Regions from separate parts of the Homo sapiens genome. Here region 2 is linked to region 1. Evidence: fine-mapped expression QTL. Tissue or cell type: cerebellar hemisphere. Region 1 holds a variant in brackets; the other region holds the start of a gene. All regions are shown on one strand. Distances are from middle to middle.

Evidence for each region. PIP is the estimated chance that this variant, and not a neighbour inherited with it, causes the effect.
Region 2: it holds the start of ITGA2, and the variant in region 1 is fine-mapped to the expression of ITGA2 in cerebellar hemisphere (GTEx, PIP above 0.99). The same link has a PIP of 0.9 or more in cerebellum.

What each region holds. Positions count from the first base shown.
Region 1 is chr5:53,094,922-53,103,369 of GRCh38, forward strand. It overlaps MOCS2 (molybdenum cofactor synthesis 2), which reads right to left. Exons shown (of 7, transcript NM_004531.5): 4 at 7,176-7,303; 5 at 6,438-6,588; 6 at 5,490-5,613; 7 at 758-3,746. The coding sequence ends at 3,681. Among named protein-coding and RNA genes, the nearest start is that of MOCS2, 11 kb to the right of the region's middle. The variant GC/G (reference allele first, on the strand shown) is at 3,267.
Region 2 is chr5:52,985,177-52,993,419 of GRCh38, forward strand. ITGA2 (integrin subunit alpha 2) reads left to right here and starts at 4,176. Exons shown (of 30, transcript NM_002203.4): 1 at 4,176-4,356. The coding sequence starts at 4,293. ITGA2-AS1 (ITGA2 antisense RNA 1) reads right to left here and starts at 5,110. Exons shown (of 4, transcript NR_186583.1): 1 at 4,914-5,110; 2 at 3,028-3,100. RefSeq lists an enhancer at 2,316-3,515 and a silencer at 3,980-4,129.

The sequences.
Region 1 (8,448 bases):
TCTTAAACTGCCTTCGAAGTTTTGAGACAGTGTAAAGCATTGCTCCTCAAAGTGTGGCCCAGGGACAGATGGTGCTGCATCACCTGGAGCCTGTTAAAAAACACAGATCTCAGGGGCCACTCAAAACTATTCAAGTCAAATTGTAAGTTCTACAGCATCCCCAGGTGATTCATATTGCATTGAAGTTGAGAAGCACTGCTCTAAAGCTTACCTTTTGAAATAAAATGTGTGCTTGGAATAGAGAGGGAAAAAAAATCAGCCAAACTGCTGCAACATGCAAAAGCAGAGTCATCTGCACAGTTTAAAAAAAATCATAATAAGCAGGAAGGTTTAAATATTTTTAAAGAGTAAATATGCTGAAATAAATATGCTGTAAGTTATAAAGTAAGTACACGTTGGGCTCACAGACTGCCATCGCTGTACAGATGGCAGAGTAATGCAAAGACAGGGTGGAAAGTGTGTGTGTGCTGCCATAAATAGCGATGCACCAGCATCTCCATTCATGTCTGCGGCGCTCTCTCACATGCCTCCCTGCCCATCGCAGTTGTGCTGAGCCGTCTCAGGAGGGCAGCTCACTGCAGCACAACCATCAATAAGTGTGTCTGCTATATATCTCACATTAAAATACAATCTTGGAGAGCTGAATGTGGGAATTGCAGCTACTTGGGAGGCTGAGGCAGGGAGGATCCTTTGAACCCAGGAGTTCAAGGCCGGCAACATGAGACCCCCCCCCTCCCAGCTCTTAAAAAATAAAATGTTAGAGAAAGAGAGCACTAAGTTTTATTTCTTTGTTTTTCACAGAGCAGGTTAGGAAATGCTGTACAGGTTAGGAAGACCTGTATTAAAGCAATCATTTATATCCCATAGTTAACTGGAAAATAATTTTATACTTACTTTTTAAAAAGTACTTCTTTTTATTTATTCTACATCACTTGTTAAAAACTACAAATTGCATTTTCAAAAACTCCTTCCTGATCCTATCATAATCTTTTAATATTTTTAAGGTGTCAATTAAAGATTGGACATCATCTTACATAAAATCAGGGCCTAATTTTCATTTCGGAACCACTACAGCCTGACTTTAAAGAAAATGGCTACTAAACTGAACTTTTGGTTCTATGCAAAATTAAATCTAAGTAAGACTCAAGTTGCTAAGAGCAACTTTACTATAACTTTTACTATGGCTCTGGCTCTACTGCCCTCTGCTGGATGATCCACCGAACTACATCACACAAATCATTCTTGAGAGATCTTCACTGTACCAGGTGCTCAGTAACTGTGTAAGATGTCTAAATCACTTATTTCTCAAAAAAGGCTGAAAATATATTGTGACTCTATACATCATATCCAAAGGACAAAAATGTCCACAAAATAAGTCACTCATTGAATATCTGCTGTTACTTTCATTCAAAGATGATAAAAATCAATTTCATTTTACCACCTGTTCAAAAATACTTGAAACATAAATAATTTGAATTTCCTATTTCTTAAGTGAACTTACCTAGCAATCATGCAAAGTCACGGCTTTAAAGTGACCAAGAAACACTGCAGGCAATCTGATTAAAGGCTAATTATTTTTTTTAGATTACTCTTCTAGTTACTTGAAGCTAAGTTACAGAGATGATAGAAAAGCTACATATCAGAGTGACAGTAGCCCCTTAATATCTGAACCACCAATTAACTCTGCCACTCCTAAGTAAGCAAGGGTCAGTAAAGATCCTATCTAAGTCAAGTGCAATGCACTAAAATCTTTCAAGGCCATTCCATCCCAGTTCTGGCATGCCCCAGGTTAACTCCTTAACCTCTCTGTTGGAGACTTTAAAAGCATAACAGTCTCAGTTCCAAACTTAGAATAAAGCCTACTTAATGAAGGCATGATTCTTTTAAAACATAAAGAATGTTCTATGTTCTTTAAAAACATCATTACCCTCAATAAGGAACTTCTAAAGAAATATCTAAGTAGGAAAGTCTTGAAATCCACATATACCTATCAACATTGCATATGACATAACATCCATTTAACAACCTATGTCCAAAATCCTAGAAATGTCCAGTGACCCAGTAACCCCATGATAATGTGCTTTTAGATATAATGCAACAGCCAACACCCACCCCTTCTCTCCAATGGGGACAGGCGGAAGCTCGATGGCAAGCCAGAGTGACACTGAACTGTGAAGGTAAGGCTGAGACCAAACAGGCAACCCGAACCCGGCAGAGGAAGTAGGCGGAGGGTTTGTCTGCCCTTCCAGTATCCTTCTGGCCCAATCTCTCCAGACGGACTAATGAACAAGCATCAACTGATGTAACCAGGTGATTCCTAAAGTCAGTGTGGCTGTCCTATGGGTCCCAGCCACAGATAAGATGCAGAGTGTTCCTCAAGGTATTTTAGGTTGGCAGAAAAAGATCACTGGGTGGGTGCCTGGCACAAAACAGGCATTCAATAAATATTTGTTGAATAAATGGGTTCCTTAGGTAAAAGATGTTTTCACTACATATAACAAATAGGATTACTACGTTTCTTATTTGTCCCAGACATAAGAAAAAAATCCTTCAATCTAAGTGTCTGAAAGTATAGCTTTTGTTCTTAATATGCATAATGCAAATTTTGTGATGATGCCGACTGCCCAAATTTTGCCTGTATTTTATTATTTTATGAGCTATGTGTTTACCTGAAATTTGCTGAGAGTAGACCTTAAATATTCTCACCACACAGAAGAGGGGACTATGTGAGCTGAGGAATATGTTAATTAGTTGGATTATGGTAATCACCTCACAATGTATATGTGTATCAAAAATCACATTGTATACTTTAAATACATACAATTTTTGTCAAGTATACCTAAATAAAGCTGGAAAAAAAAATTTAAGAACTATATGGGACTTATATGTACAAGTCTATCAAAATACTATAAAGCTTAACCAGTTAAAAATTGGGGCATTGTTTACCTAAACATTTCAACACAAACCACCTTGTTGCTAGTTAGCTTTATGACAATTTTGTGCTGATTTGTATATTGATACAAAATTAACAACTAATAAAAAACAACAAAAAGTTTTCTGGTAAGATTATAGATTCTGAAATCCCAGAAATCTCCATAATGAGAACTATTTTAGGCAATTTAAAAAAAAAGAAAATACTCTTTTTAAACTTTTGAAATCATGGGTTTTAGTTTATTATTTTTAATATATTTCTGAAAATGTATAATATCAAGACTGTCTGATAATGCTTTTTTAATACTTTCCAGTTCTGCCAACATTCCTGTCAT[GC/G]ATCCTTAATAACAATGCTCTCCCAGAACCGGGATGGGGGGCGGTGAGGTGGGGTTGGTGGGGGAGTACGTTTCTGAGCTAGTTAAAGTCACTGAGGAGGGCCCATACCTCAATGTGTGTTGAGTTACAATTAGAAATTAGTCATGGAAGGACATGTCTACCACAGATATCTTTCCTCACATTTAAATTATTCCATTTCTTCCTACAGTCCTCCTTCTATCTTTAGTTCCATTTTAAATAACCCTTCATCCTACATACCCATTTATCTTGCTTCCTTTTTCTCCCTTTTGTCCCACTAGTATAAGAGATTGTGCTTCAGTAAACTATCCTGATGTGGAGAGAAAAAAATCAAAATGTGATCAATAATAATAGTTTAACAAAGTTAAGATTGCATGCTCTAAAAACATAAGTGATTAACTGTTGGATGCCCAAAAGCACTCTTTGTTTCCTTTCCAAGTTGATGACTCTTCGTATATTTCCTAAAAAACAAAATCATAACAGGTATTAAAAATAGACCATTCTACTATACGAATATAAAATATATTTGAATAAATCAGACAAATGAATATCACATCTATTTCAATGGCTCCTCTTTTAACAATCATGACGAGAGACATCATGGGCAAGGTTACATAGGGGAAGACAGAAAGTCTTTAGTTTTAAACATTTTTTTTTCTTTCCAAACATACCTACTACTTCAACATTTCTAAATATGCTTTTCCAAAGGCAGATATCTTCATTAGCTGTTGAATTAAGTGGTCACCTCTCAGAAGTTCCTAAACAAGTTTGAGCTGCCCTCTGGTATGAGCTGTTCTTTGACATATGCACTCTACCTACCTGCCACCCTTCCCTATATCACAGATGATCTCAAAGCACAGGCCGAGACTAGAACCAGACTAGAAGTTACATAGTTTGTGGAAAGGAGGGGTAAGGAGAACATATCACTTTCTCTTCTCACTCTCTAGTCACATTCCATTTCTGTAGGGAGAGGAATTCAAATTCAACTGTCCTCTGAACTCCTGCACTTCCTCGGACTCTCTATGGACAAACAAAAGCAAAATACGAAGCCCAACTAGTCCTCAAAGCATGAAAACAAGAATATGCCCCAACTCCTGCTCATTACCTGTATTTCTGGGGTTGCTCCCATCTACTTTCTGTCCACTGACTGTGCACCCTTTCCTCCCTGGTGAAGAAAGCTACCCCTGCCTTCCAGGCTTGCAGCTGATCTTAGAATGCTCTTCCTACCTCTCGCTCTCTGGGGGCCTGCCTCCTGTTGTGTCAGCCTTGTTCACAGCAAGGGAACAATATATCTGAGCTTCACTAAGTTTCCTTTCACACATATTCTATCCTCTAATCCCTACGTATTCTAACAATGGGCTTCAATTTTATTCTGAAAACATGGTCATCAAATTTCCCAGGCCCTGGTTATGAGTCCAACTTGCTTATTTCTACCACTGACTGAGGCAGGTCCCCTGGGAAGGAGGGGAGAAGTGCCCTTTAAAAGCCCTGGCTCTCTGCTCTGGTCTTTTCATCTACTGAGCTGTTCATTAACTCCTCAGCTTTCTGTCAACCACAACGCTGTAGGCAATTCTAGACAATTCTAGACATTGAATGTGCAACCACAGAACAATCCCACTGTTAATGTTACTACACCAGGGGAGAAACTAGGGAGTTGGGCCTTTTCATCCCATCAGAATGCTCTATTTAACCAGAGAATTACTTGCCCTTATTGACAGAAAACATGCCAGAAGTTCCTATTTCTGTTTTTAAATCCACTCACTGCATTTTCTCAGAGGGAGCAATATCTCACCATTTTTTTTTCTTCCCTAAAAAGGACCTCTAGGAAAAGCCTCTTTCACTTTAAAGAATTTCTATTTTAGCCATTACCTAAATAGCTAATGCATTATTCTCACTCTCCAACAGAAAGACCCTCTAATTCAAGGGAATTATAATCCAAGGAAAATAACTTCATGTATGAACCCCTCCAACAGTCCAGACTAGGAATTCTCACTGTTATCACTCATTGAGGCTTACTGTGTGCCATGCATTCTTTGGGGCACATATTTTTCATGCTTAACAAATCTTGGAAAGAAGATATTTCACAGATAAAGAAAACAAGATACTACAGTCAGTAAAAAGTCCATAAATATGGGGGGATTTATCTAAAAATTCCTGAGAAAAATCAGGTCCACATGCTAAAATGTGTTATTTTCTTAACTTACCTTTTTCCATATGGGCACCTTGGCTTTTAAAGTATCAATGGCATAGCTCACAGCTTCAAGAGATGCAGCTCTGTGGGCTGAGGACACAGCAATGATTATGCTTGCTTCTGACACTGGAACCAAGCTTTAACAAGATGAAGAGAAAAAAAAATCACCATCATCTCTGAATCTACGTGTTAAAGAATCTGCTAGACAGATGAAAAAAAATCCAGGTATGCAGTCTTAGAATTATACTGTAGTTCTATTTTACGTAAACATACAGTTAGAAAAGAGTAATTAATTGCAGTAGCATTCAGCAGAGGCAGTAGATGAGGCTGATGCTACAGCTAATTTGTTAGAATCTATCCACTAAACCCTCCTGATGGGCACCAAGGAAAATCCTTTCATTGATAGAGCAAACATCTGACTCAACAAGGCACAGTGCCAAGTAATGCCTAGAAATACAAAGTTATGTCCTAACGAGTATAATACAAAATTTAAAATAATACATATCAAGTAATAGGAGTGATAATAACCATTAATAAAACTACTGGTTATTAATAACAAACTAGTAACTAACAGAGTATGATAGATACAGTCTCAATTACTGGCTTCTTTTTAAAGCCAAGAACTCTTCTCTTTTTAGGGGTACAAAAAGGCAAACCACTCTAATGACTTTCGAGGCATTTATATCAAAAAGAATCTGTCACAGATTGTCATAGGGCCTGCAAGTCTTGGCACAACTGCAGTTTGTTACAGCAACAGAGGCAACAAGAGCTCTCCCAATATCAAAACTCACTAGGCAGTCCCTAAAGGTACTAACAGCCATCCCTATTGTCCTCCAAAAATAATACATGAATATTCCTCTCATGGTAATATAGAATTACTAAGAAAGATTCAAGAATCAGAGTTAGTACAAAGATGGAAAACAATTACACTTAACTTTTAGAGTGATAAAGGAAATCATACCCAAGTCTATGGAACACTGCTATGTGTTTGACTGGCCATTTCTGCCTAATGTCACTACAAATCTTTCTGACTTCATTTTCCGCCATGGGTAGATATGCTTCATATTCTAAGCTAATGACTTTTTTCCCTTCAAAGTTATTTCTTGTAGTCCCTTTAAAAATGAAAAAAAAGAAAAAGAAAACAATTAAAATAAGGTTTTTCCCTACAAAAGAAATAGCACGTTAATAAAAAAGGAATATTTTTAATAGTAAATTAATAGTAAACAAGCAGCATACCAATTCTTCTAAAACTACTTTGAAATCTTCTAAAAACAAAATTTGATTAGGAAAATAAAACAGATCTTCACAAAGATGAGCACTGATTAAGCAAGCTTACTAAAAACACTCACCTGGCAAACCGGGCAATATTCCTCTTCTGACTAATAGATACTTAAAAGGAAAATATTTATGTTCCCAGGACTATCAAGTACATTTTTACCTTCAATTTTGGAAAATCTAGAATTCTCTCTCCTAACAATGACTTTTATCCTACTTTTCAAAATGCCTTGTAATTTAATATAGGTTAATTTGAAGGTTACTAAAACAAAACAAGAACTAAAAAAAAGTCTACCCACCATCATCGGTAATCTTGGTTTAAAGTTCAGTATTTCAAACTCCTCCGTTAACACTGAACATGGAAAGCACATGCTAATTTCTATTGTCTTATACAGTGATAGATGCAATGAAAATTACAACTCACCTACAAATAGGGATATTGCACCACAGAGCGGAGAAATCACCAACTGTGAGACTTCATCTACTGAAAGTTTCTCGGCAGTAAAGTTTATAACATCTTTAGATTTCTCTTCAACTTCATCCATATCTTTCCTAGAAATAATACATTAACAAACCTTAACAGAAGTCCTAGGGGTAAAACACTCAACAACTTATAGGCTCTTTCAATTTATATTTTTTTCTACATTATGTCGATGTAAAAGGAAGAGGCTGTGGCACAAAATATAGTTTACATGAGTCAAATCAAGGACAGTGGCCCAGGATGCTTCTAAGATACCTTGGGGAGTTCCTTTGGGGAGCACTCCCTCGGCCTTTGTTGCAAGCAGGTTTGTAAAGGCAAAGGGAACAAAAAGTGGGCTGATACAATGATACAAAGTTTCACCAAGAATTCTCACTGGCATACAGAGATAATGTTGATCACTGATTGGCTGTACACTGTTGAACTATAGGGTGGGTACAAGTTAGAGTGTCCAGCATATGGACTTTATGGTTTCTTAGCTTCAGCTAGTCTGCAGCCCTCATAATAAGTGGCTTCAAGGGACCAGTGGCTCACACCTGTAATCCCACCACTTTGGGAGGCCGAGGCGGGTGGATCATTTGGGGTCAGGAGTTTGAGACCAGCCTGGCCAACATGGTGAAACCCCGTCTCTACTAAAAATACAAAAATTAGCCAGGCGGTAGTGGCACACATCTATAATCCCAACTACTTGGGAGGCTGAGGCAGGAGAATTGCTTGAGCTTGGGAGGTGGAGGTTGCAGTGAGCTGAAACTGATCATGCCACTGCACTCCAGTCTGGGCGACAAAGTGATACCCCATCTCAAAAAAAAAAAAAGAAAAAAAAGGTAATGATGCAGCTTAATGGGGAGTGACATGACTGCCATTTCATTCCAGTGCCTTTCTGTGCCTCTTAATGTTTTATCTGACGGGCTCACATTCCTCAGATAAAAAGTTTCTTTTCTTTTTTTCCCCACCATTAAATGTGTTAGGAGGCATGATTTGATCTGAATGATAAAAATAAGCAAGTGTAAAAATTAACAAAACTCAATTATGTGTATAAATATTCATAATGAATCAGGCATGACATAAAAAGTAATCCATTATTAACATGATCACTAAAATATAATCTGTCTCAATGCCAATATATTCCAAATTCTGTAACTGCTATTCATATCTCCCATCAAGATACAGTGGAGGTATTGCCACTTTCACCTACATGCCCATCCCCTCTCACCACTAT
Region 2 (8,243 bases), 110 kb before region 1:
GGAAAAAAGAAAGAAAATGGTTGTACAAAGTGAACACAAATTTCCATTTCATGTGATCAGCAAAGATTCTAGAATCTGTATACCATGAATGTAAATCCCTAGGAGATTGATCGAGCTTGGTCAGGTGTTTGGCTTAGCGACAAGGAGGCAGGATTATGTGACTCAGTGACTTCTAGAAGGGGATCATGGAAGACTCTGAGAAAGCCCTATTGGCAGAGCTGGCAAATAGCTTTGCATGTCTGCCACAAGCATGAAAACAAGTAAGGCCAGTCAACCGTAGTTGTGCTAGAATCGAAATATGAATATGATTCATCAGTGTATTGATGGGTCCAGGAAGCTAGGAAATCTAGAATTATTTTATTTGTTTTGTTTGTGTTTAAGTTAGGAGTGTCTCTTTTATTTTGGCCATTATGCACCCCAGCCAGTGCTTAGAGACTTGTGTGTGAGTCAAGCTCAATGGATTCTAAGCTTTACTCACTCATCCCATGGATTCACTGAGTAACATTTGAGAAGCCACTGGTTACTTCACTTCAAAATTACTAGGACTTACCTAGAAGTTCATATTTACCACCCTTTTCAGGTCTAGGGAGAAGAATGTGGAATTGTTAGGAAACTCATTTCAATGTATTATAATAACTATTAATATTTATTAGAAATTTATTTACTAGGTATAGGACTAGACTCTTATAACAAAAATGTATAAGATTTCAGAGACCCAGCATTTAAATGAGAAGGTAGAATATACACATATAACTCAATAATATATTACTCTGTAATACATACAAAAGAAAGTTTATTTGGGGGAAAAAACAAAAACAAAAAAAAAAAGCTAGAGGAAACCAGAGCCAAGAAAGAAGAATGATTAGTTCTCAGTGAAGAAAATGGGAAAGGCTGGGCTAATAATATAGAATTTGACTGGAGCCTTGAAGTAGAATTTGAAACAATGGAAGAAAAAAAGAAAGCTATTCTAAGTAGAAAAATAAGGAATTGACAATGAAGAATGGGAAAGGCAGGCCAGTGAACTCGTGAATTTGGCCTAAACATAGTGTGCAAGAGGGAAAGATAGCCACGGAGCCCACAGAGGTGAGTTGGAGCCAAATCGTGACCTTAAACCCTAGGGTACTTTGAATGTCCTGAAGACATCTAATGATTTTCAGCAGATCAGTCCTGCATTTTTGGATAACTGTGACAACAGGTATAAAAGATGAACTGGAACAGGAGAGAAGGAAGCACAGAGAGATTATATGGGAGTTTGTCACCATGGTGAAAGATCAAAAGGGTTTGAACCAAAGAGAGATTAGCAGTGGAACAGAAAATAGGAGATGGCACAGAAAACCCTAGTAGGGTGTAAAGACAGAATTGGAATGGGATGTTAGCAGGGGGCTGGTGGTGCACCTGGGGAAGAAAGCAGAGGTTTCTGGTTTGGGTGATTGTCTATATGAAAACGGGATAAACAAAGGAGGGCAGGGCATGACGATACAACAGATCAGAAGGAAACACTGGGGAAACTTATCTGAGCCGTGTTCCCCAACAAAACTCTGTCTTGAGCTAAGGAAAAGAAAAAGAGGGGAAGGCCTCACTTCACCCCTGAGTGCTTTTTGGAGTAGGGTCTCTGGGTCTCTCAAGATCCTTTCAAGTGGCCAGTGAAGTCAAAACTATTTTCATAACAATACTGAGACGTTACTGCGTTTTTCACTGTGTTGACATTTGCCCTCATGGTGCAAGAACAAGGATGGGGACTGGTGGTCATTGTATTCTTCATCACTGGGCACTCACAGGAAGAGAAAGGGAGAGGGACACGGAGAGGCCAGCAGATCAATGAATTTTAATGCCACGGAATAGGAAAAACCATTGATATGGTTTCAGATTCCACATTGCAACTTTAAGAAACTACCACTTGTTGAGTTTTGGTGTAGTATCAGGGGATTATCCAGAATTATCTCCTGTTTTTCTAAGTCCATATCTGTGTAACACCAGATTAATCAATATAATTTCACCAAAACTACATGCCGTAACAGATTGGATGCAGAAGCAGATCTGAGAATCCAAATGTCTGTTTTTAAGCCAGATATTTAAAATATTAGCAAAAATGTAAAGCAATGCCACTCTTCTCCCGGATTCTTTCATTTGGAGAAATATAGTTATTTTTCATAAAATGTACATTATTTATGTTCACACATAATAGGATTTTTGTTAAAGGACTTACTGAGTAAAGGGCTCTTGAGACCAAAGAGTTTGAGAAGCCCCAGCTTAACCTTCCATATTTCCTGCTCTGAATGTGGTGTCCCTCACAACTGCAACTAGGCAGGAGAGCACCCTGGAAGGGGTTCTCAAACTACTTTGTCTCAGGAACACTTTATCCTCTTAAAATTAATGTGAGGCAGGAGTTTGTTCTTTGTTTCTAAAAGTTTTGCCTGGCTCTGGAAAATCGTAGCTCCTGACTTATTCTGCACTTCATGACAGTGTAATGTTAATTTGTCCAGTTCTGAGAACAAAAACCAAGAAGGATGCATGTTATTTCCCCCCACCCCCAGAGATAAAACACAAATTCCTGTCTCACATTAAAGGAAGTGTCCTGCCTCCCAAACACAGGTCTGTTCCAAACACTTACTCACATTTCAGTGAGTCAGAAGGAAACAGACAGATATTCATCTCCCTGAAACCTGGCTGACTTCCTTCAAAAAGTCTGTAAGGAGCGTCAAAATCGTGTCACCGGTTAGTGAGCAGCCACCTAAGAGCTCTCAGGTGATAGCCGGAGTTTTAGTAAGCAGGTGAGTACCCCAGACAATTCAGAAAAAAATGCCTTCAGGTGTTTGTCAAGGTGAGTAAGTGCAGCCAGTAAGTGACTGATAAGAAAACAGGAAAGAGCCTGGGACTATATAATTTGGGTTCAAAGGGTATTAGTCATAAGCCATCAGCAGCAACATCTGATGCATACCAATTTAATACTTTAACAATGTGACACATCAGCCCTATCTATAGTAAAGAGAAGAGCTTGATTTTTATGAATTATTAAGTCCTTCCCACCTTGAGCCACTTTGCTTCCTAGAGGCAGTATCTCAGGCATCCCATTCAGCTCATAGTAGCATTCCATGAAGATCTGGAATGATGACAATAATGATGATTATTAGACTCATAACTCCTTAAGCTTGATTTATGAAAACAGTTCGTTCCTTCACAAAAGTAGTCACTGGAAGAATTCTGGTTTCAGCAATGTGCTGGAAATTTGTGGCCAAACTTTTGGATAAAACATAAGATTCAGACAAGAAAAATTAATATCCTATTTCTTAGGTTTTTAACTAAAAATCTCGGATATAGAATGTTCTCTTTCCAGATGTGAGACTGAAATAATGGAAGAAAATGGTCACAGTCTATGTCATGGTGTAATGTAGACAGGGAGAGTCACAAGTGCATGTATGGGCTCTCAGCCTTTTCTCTGGCCTTGAAGTTAATCTCCTAAACTCAGTCATTAAATCAGCTCTTAATTATCTCGGAGGAGAGGAAGTAATGATGATTTCTCTCTCTCTGTCTCTCTGTCACACACACACACACACACACAGCTCTTGCAGCAGGTATTGCTTAAATATCACCTTGGATAATCATAACTTGTGAGCAGATCTTCTTTCCTGATGAGTTAGTTTCTAACCTGGTCATTCTGCGCTTATTTTTGTCCCTTTCTCCACCCACTTAGGAAAAACAGAGAAAGGGACGCACCGCGCAGCCCCTAGGCACTGTGGTTTAGGGCTAGTGCCCTCGGCACCCGCTGCCAGGAGCCGGGCGCTGCCAAGGGCTGCGGAGGGGCCACGTTCTCCCGGGGACTGGGGCATCTCCTGCGTGCTGGCGACAGGCTGCGGGGGCGGAGTGGTGCCAGGGCGGGCGCTCGCCCGTCGGATATGCCCACCCGTCCCGTCCAGGGCAGGAAAGCCTGCCAGGGCGCCATCCCCATCCCCACCGCCTCCAGGCTGCCGGGGCTGGGCCGCTGTACGGGAGCCAAGGTGCGGTGCCCCGCGTGTGGACGAGCCGAGGTGCAGCCCGCGGGGCCGCAGGGCCGGGGTGGGGCGGGGCGCGGCCGGAGCAGATCCGGTGTTTGCGGAATCAGGAGGGGCGGGCTGGGGCGGGCCCTCGGCGCTGCAGGAGCTGCCCAGAAACTTTTCCCTGCTCTCACCGGGCGGGGGAGAGAAGCCCTCTGGACAGCTTCTAGAGTGTGCAGGTTCTCGTATCCCTCGGCCAAGGGTATCCTCTGCAAACCTCTGCAAACCCAGCGCAACTACGGTCCCCCGGTCAGACCCAGGATGGGGCCAGAACGGACAGGGGCCGCGCCGCTGCCGCTGCTGCTGGTGTTAGCGCTCAGTCAAGGTAAGCGGGGATTTCGCTCTGCATCGGCTGCAGGAGGGACCCGCGCGGCTTCCTGGGGCTCGCTGGAGGGATTGGGCGGAACTAGGGAGCGAGCTCCGTGTGTTCCCTCGGATTCCACGTGGACTCGGGCTCCCAGCCACCAGGACCTGCTTGGAAAGAGATACTTCTTCGTTCCCTTCCTGCTATCCCAGGCCTTGCGTCCCCATTAGGCGCGTCTCGCCCTGTCTGTTAAGCACCCTCCAAAGTCATCTCAGTGAGTGCTTTGTTTTAGGTACACACACGCACACACACACACACACACACAGACAGACACGCACGCACTCAAGCATGGACAGTGTGGGGATCCGCGGGTGTCCTGGAGACCGCGAGTCCTGCAGCCCAACTTCCCCTGGCTCAGACAGGTGCCGCGCCTGCCAGAGACCAGGGAAATCCGGAATCCATTGCTGATGGCGGCCTGCAGCTCCCCAGCGCGGTGCTTGCTGGCTTTGCAGAAGCCTGCGAGCCCCAAAATGCTTATTTTTCAACCCAAGGATGTGAATAATGCCTCTATTTCTTACTTGAGGACGAAGCGCTGTGTTTCTTCCCGGGGGGACTTGGAATAAACCAAGCGCCACTTAAATACTTGGCAGAGGGGAATTCTTCCTTCCCTTCTGCCTTCCTCTTATTGTTGTAACATTGTCTATTCGACGAATGTAAACTTAGGCTAGGAAAAGTTCTTTTCACTTCTGGATCCTAGATGCCGCAATGAGAGAATAAGCCGGAGCAGCCGCTCTAACTGTAGTGCTGTGGCAGTGGGGCCCGCCCACCTCCTGAGTTCTTTTACACTAAGAGGAGGAAATAAGGCTGGGGTGGAGAGCTTTTGTGGGACCATCGCCTGAGTACTTTTTCCCTGACCATTAGGCAGAGCTAGAGTGTGGTCAAATTTAAGAATTTTAGTTTATTTGGAGGGAGAAGGAGACACGTTTGTATAATGTAGTTTGAACAGCGATCAAAACAAAACAAAAAAGTTGTCTCTGATTTTAAAGTGTGTGTGTGGTTTTTTTTTTTTTTTTTTACAAAGAAGATAAATATTTCCTAAGCTGTCCTCCTTTGAGACTGACATTCAGCCACTTGCTATTCTTTATTGTGGAGGAATGAATCCTAGTCCACGTCAACCTGGTGGCATTTTCTCCAGGTCAGAGATAAGAGAGAAATAGCACCACTGTCCCCAGCCCGAGCAGAGAATGGGCATCTTAGGTTTTCTGTCTCACCTGTATTGGGTGCTTCAGATACTTTCTCCGGGAACCAGATGAGTTGTTTTGAGGGGCCACCAACCCTAATCTACGGATTTCAGGTAAAGTTGTACTTGACATTGAAAATGAGTCTCTGGAATACAACTAGAGCTAATAGAAATATAAACCCAAGCTTTTCATCTCTCTGTAATTACCCAGTATTAAAATAAGCTGTGGAAACATAACATCATTTTCTTATCTTTGAAATGTTGAGGCTTGTTATGTAAAGAGCAGTGAGAAATTCTTTAATGGAATGTAACGCTGCAAGGCATGAAGTCAGGAACAGAGACTTAACCTGGAGTTAATAAGGACACCTCAGGGCAAGCAAGCAGAGATGATCGAAAATAACATCTGCAAAAGTTTTGTGCATTTATTCCCTCCTCCTACTCCAGCCATTTGTATACTCAAGGAACAGGTTTTCTCTTAATTTAAGATCCTCATAAGAAAGCTCTCTCATTTGTGATATCACTTGAGGTTCCTGGAGAAGCAGCATCGTTTTTTGGTACCATGAGTATCCCAGGTTAACATGAATAAGTGAAATCTCTAGCTCAGTAGTATCTAAAATTTTGTATGGCATTACCCTATCTGTATAAAATTTCTCATTCACTATCATTACACACACACACACACATAACTGTTATAAAATTATAGTATGTACAATTGCATCATATCACATACAAAAATTCAAATTTAAAAGCTATGTATGTGACAGAGCTTCATTATGATGATCTTAAATTAAGAGAAAACCTGTTCCTTGAGTATACAATATGCCGTGTTATGTATATACAATTGTATATACATATATATACCTGTTAATATGTATAAAACACATGTGTGTTTAGACATCTTGTATCATCTCTAGCATACATGCAAACCACTTTAAAAACATATCACCTTCAAATCTTATTTTAACACTTACATTCAAATTTGCTTTCCAGAAACCTTTTCACAGGTGCTTAAGAAGAAAATGTACTCATAGTTTAGTCCTATATTTATCACCTTTCAGTGCTCATTTCTAAGTGCTTAATACCATGAAAATGGTAAATGGGCAGTCTGAGGATGAAAAAGAGAGAACATAAGAGGCCTAGATAATCTATAAACTAAATATAGGCCATTAGCAGAAGGCAAATGTAATTTTGAAATGAAGGCCATCACGTATTTTCTCCAGTATGTTCACAGGTCAAGGATAGTCCTTCCACCCAGGTTCTAGACCACATCTTTTCTTACTATCCCTGAAACCCTGCCCCAGCACTCATCCCTCTTCAGTGCACGTCTTCAAATTCTCTCCCTAATGTAACTTCCCCTCAGTCTGTAAATATTCTAATTTTTCTTATTGTAAAAAAAATATTTCTTTTGATATTTAATTTCCTCCTGAAACATCCTGTACTTCTGGCTTCTGTTCTCTTCCTGTTTTTCTCCTCCTTTCCTCGCTGCTCTCCCGTCATCTCCTTCACAGGCTCTTTCCTTGTTGGTGTTTGCAGAGTTTCATCCTGAATCCTCCTCTTCATTCTGCAGATTGTCTCTGGGCCCATTCCCTGCACAGGTCCCTATCTCCAGCCAGCCTCCCCTTCTGAGTTCCAGATCAGTATTTCCATCAGCCACCAAATTTCTCCAGCTAGACAGTCTGTAAGTAAGCCAGATTCAACATTTCCAAAACTGAATTTAATACGTGTCCTCCAGAATTTTCTCCTCTATTGGCTACCATTGTTTAATGGCAGTATTATTATCACACAAACATGAAAGCCAGGAATTTGTCCCCATGTTTTCAACCTCACAGCCACTCTCCAAATTCTCTTGGCTCTCCTCCCATCCATGCAACTCCTGCCACCCAGTCAGTCCCTCATCTTATGTCTGTATGTAACTTTTAAACTGGATTTTCTTTTCTTATCTCTCCAACCCATTCTCTTCATTTTCACTAATGATATCTTTCTAAGACACTTATATGTTTCCAATTACTGCTTTGTTTCAAATGTTAGTGGCTCCCCATCTCAGGTAGGGTAAAGTGCCAATTTCTTGGCATGTCATAAAAAGGTACATTCTACCTATCCAATCTTTTCTTTACTGTATGCTTTCCTGAACACAAATACACATTCACACACACACACCACACACATGCCCACACATGTACACACTCTAAAGCCATCTATATACACCATTCTTTGTTATGACTACACCTGATCATACCATATTTAGTGTGAAAATATTTTCCAAATACTCCCTTTGCCTTCATTGCATTGTTGCTTTCACCCCTTTTCACTCATCTCTTTGCAACTGACCATTATCCAATGCTAGAAGGGTCAATCCCAAGCAAAATTATAAAGTAGAGAACTTTTACTTTTGCAACAAAAAGGAAAGCTTGAGGTAACCTACCTTTGCTGGGTCCCACCCTAAACCACCTCTCTGGTCTCATCCTCAGCCCCTTAATGGGACTTAGGCCGCCCTCTGATAAAGTAACTTTGCTCCCCTATGGCTTAGCAGTTATACCTGCCCAACCTCAGCTAAGCTTTGCTCTCTTAATACTAGGTCCTGAGCCACTGTTTGACTTAAATTTATGGACTGGGGTTTAGGATTCAGTATTTACAATGGCTCATATATTTCTGATGTATGGTCTGGTTT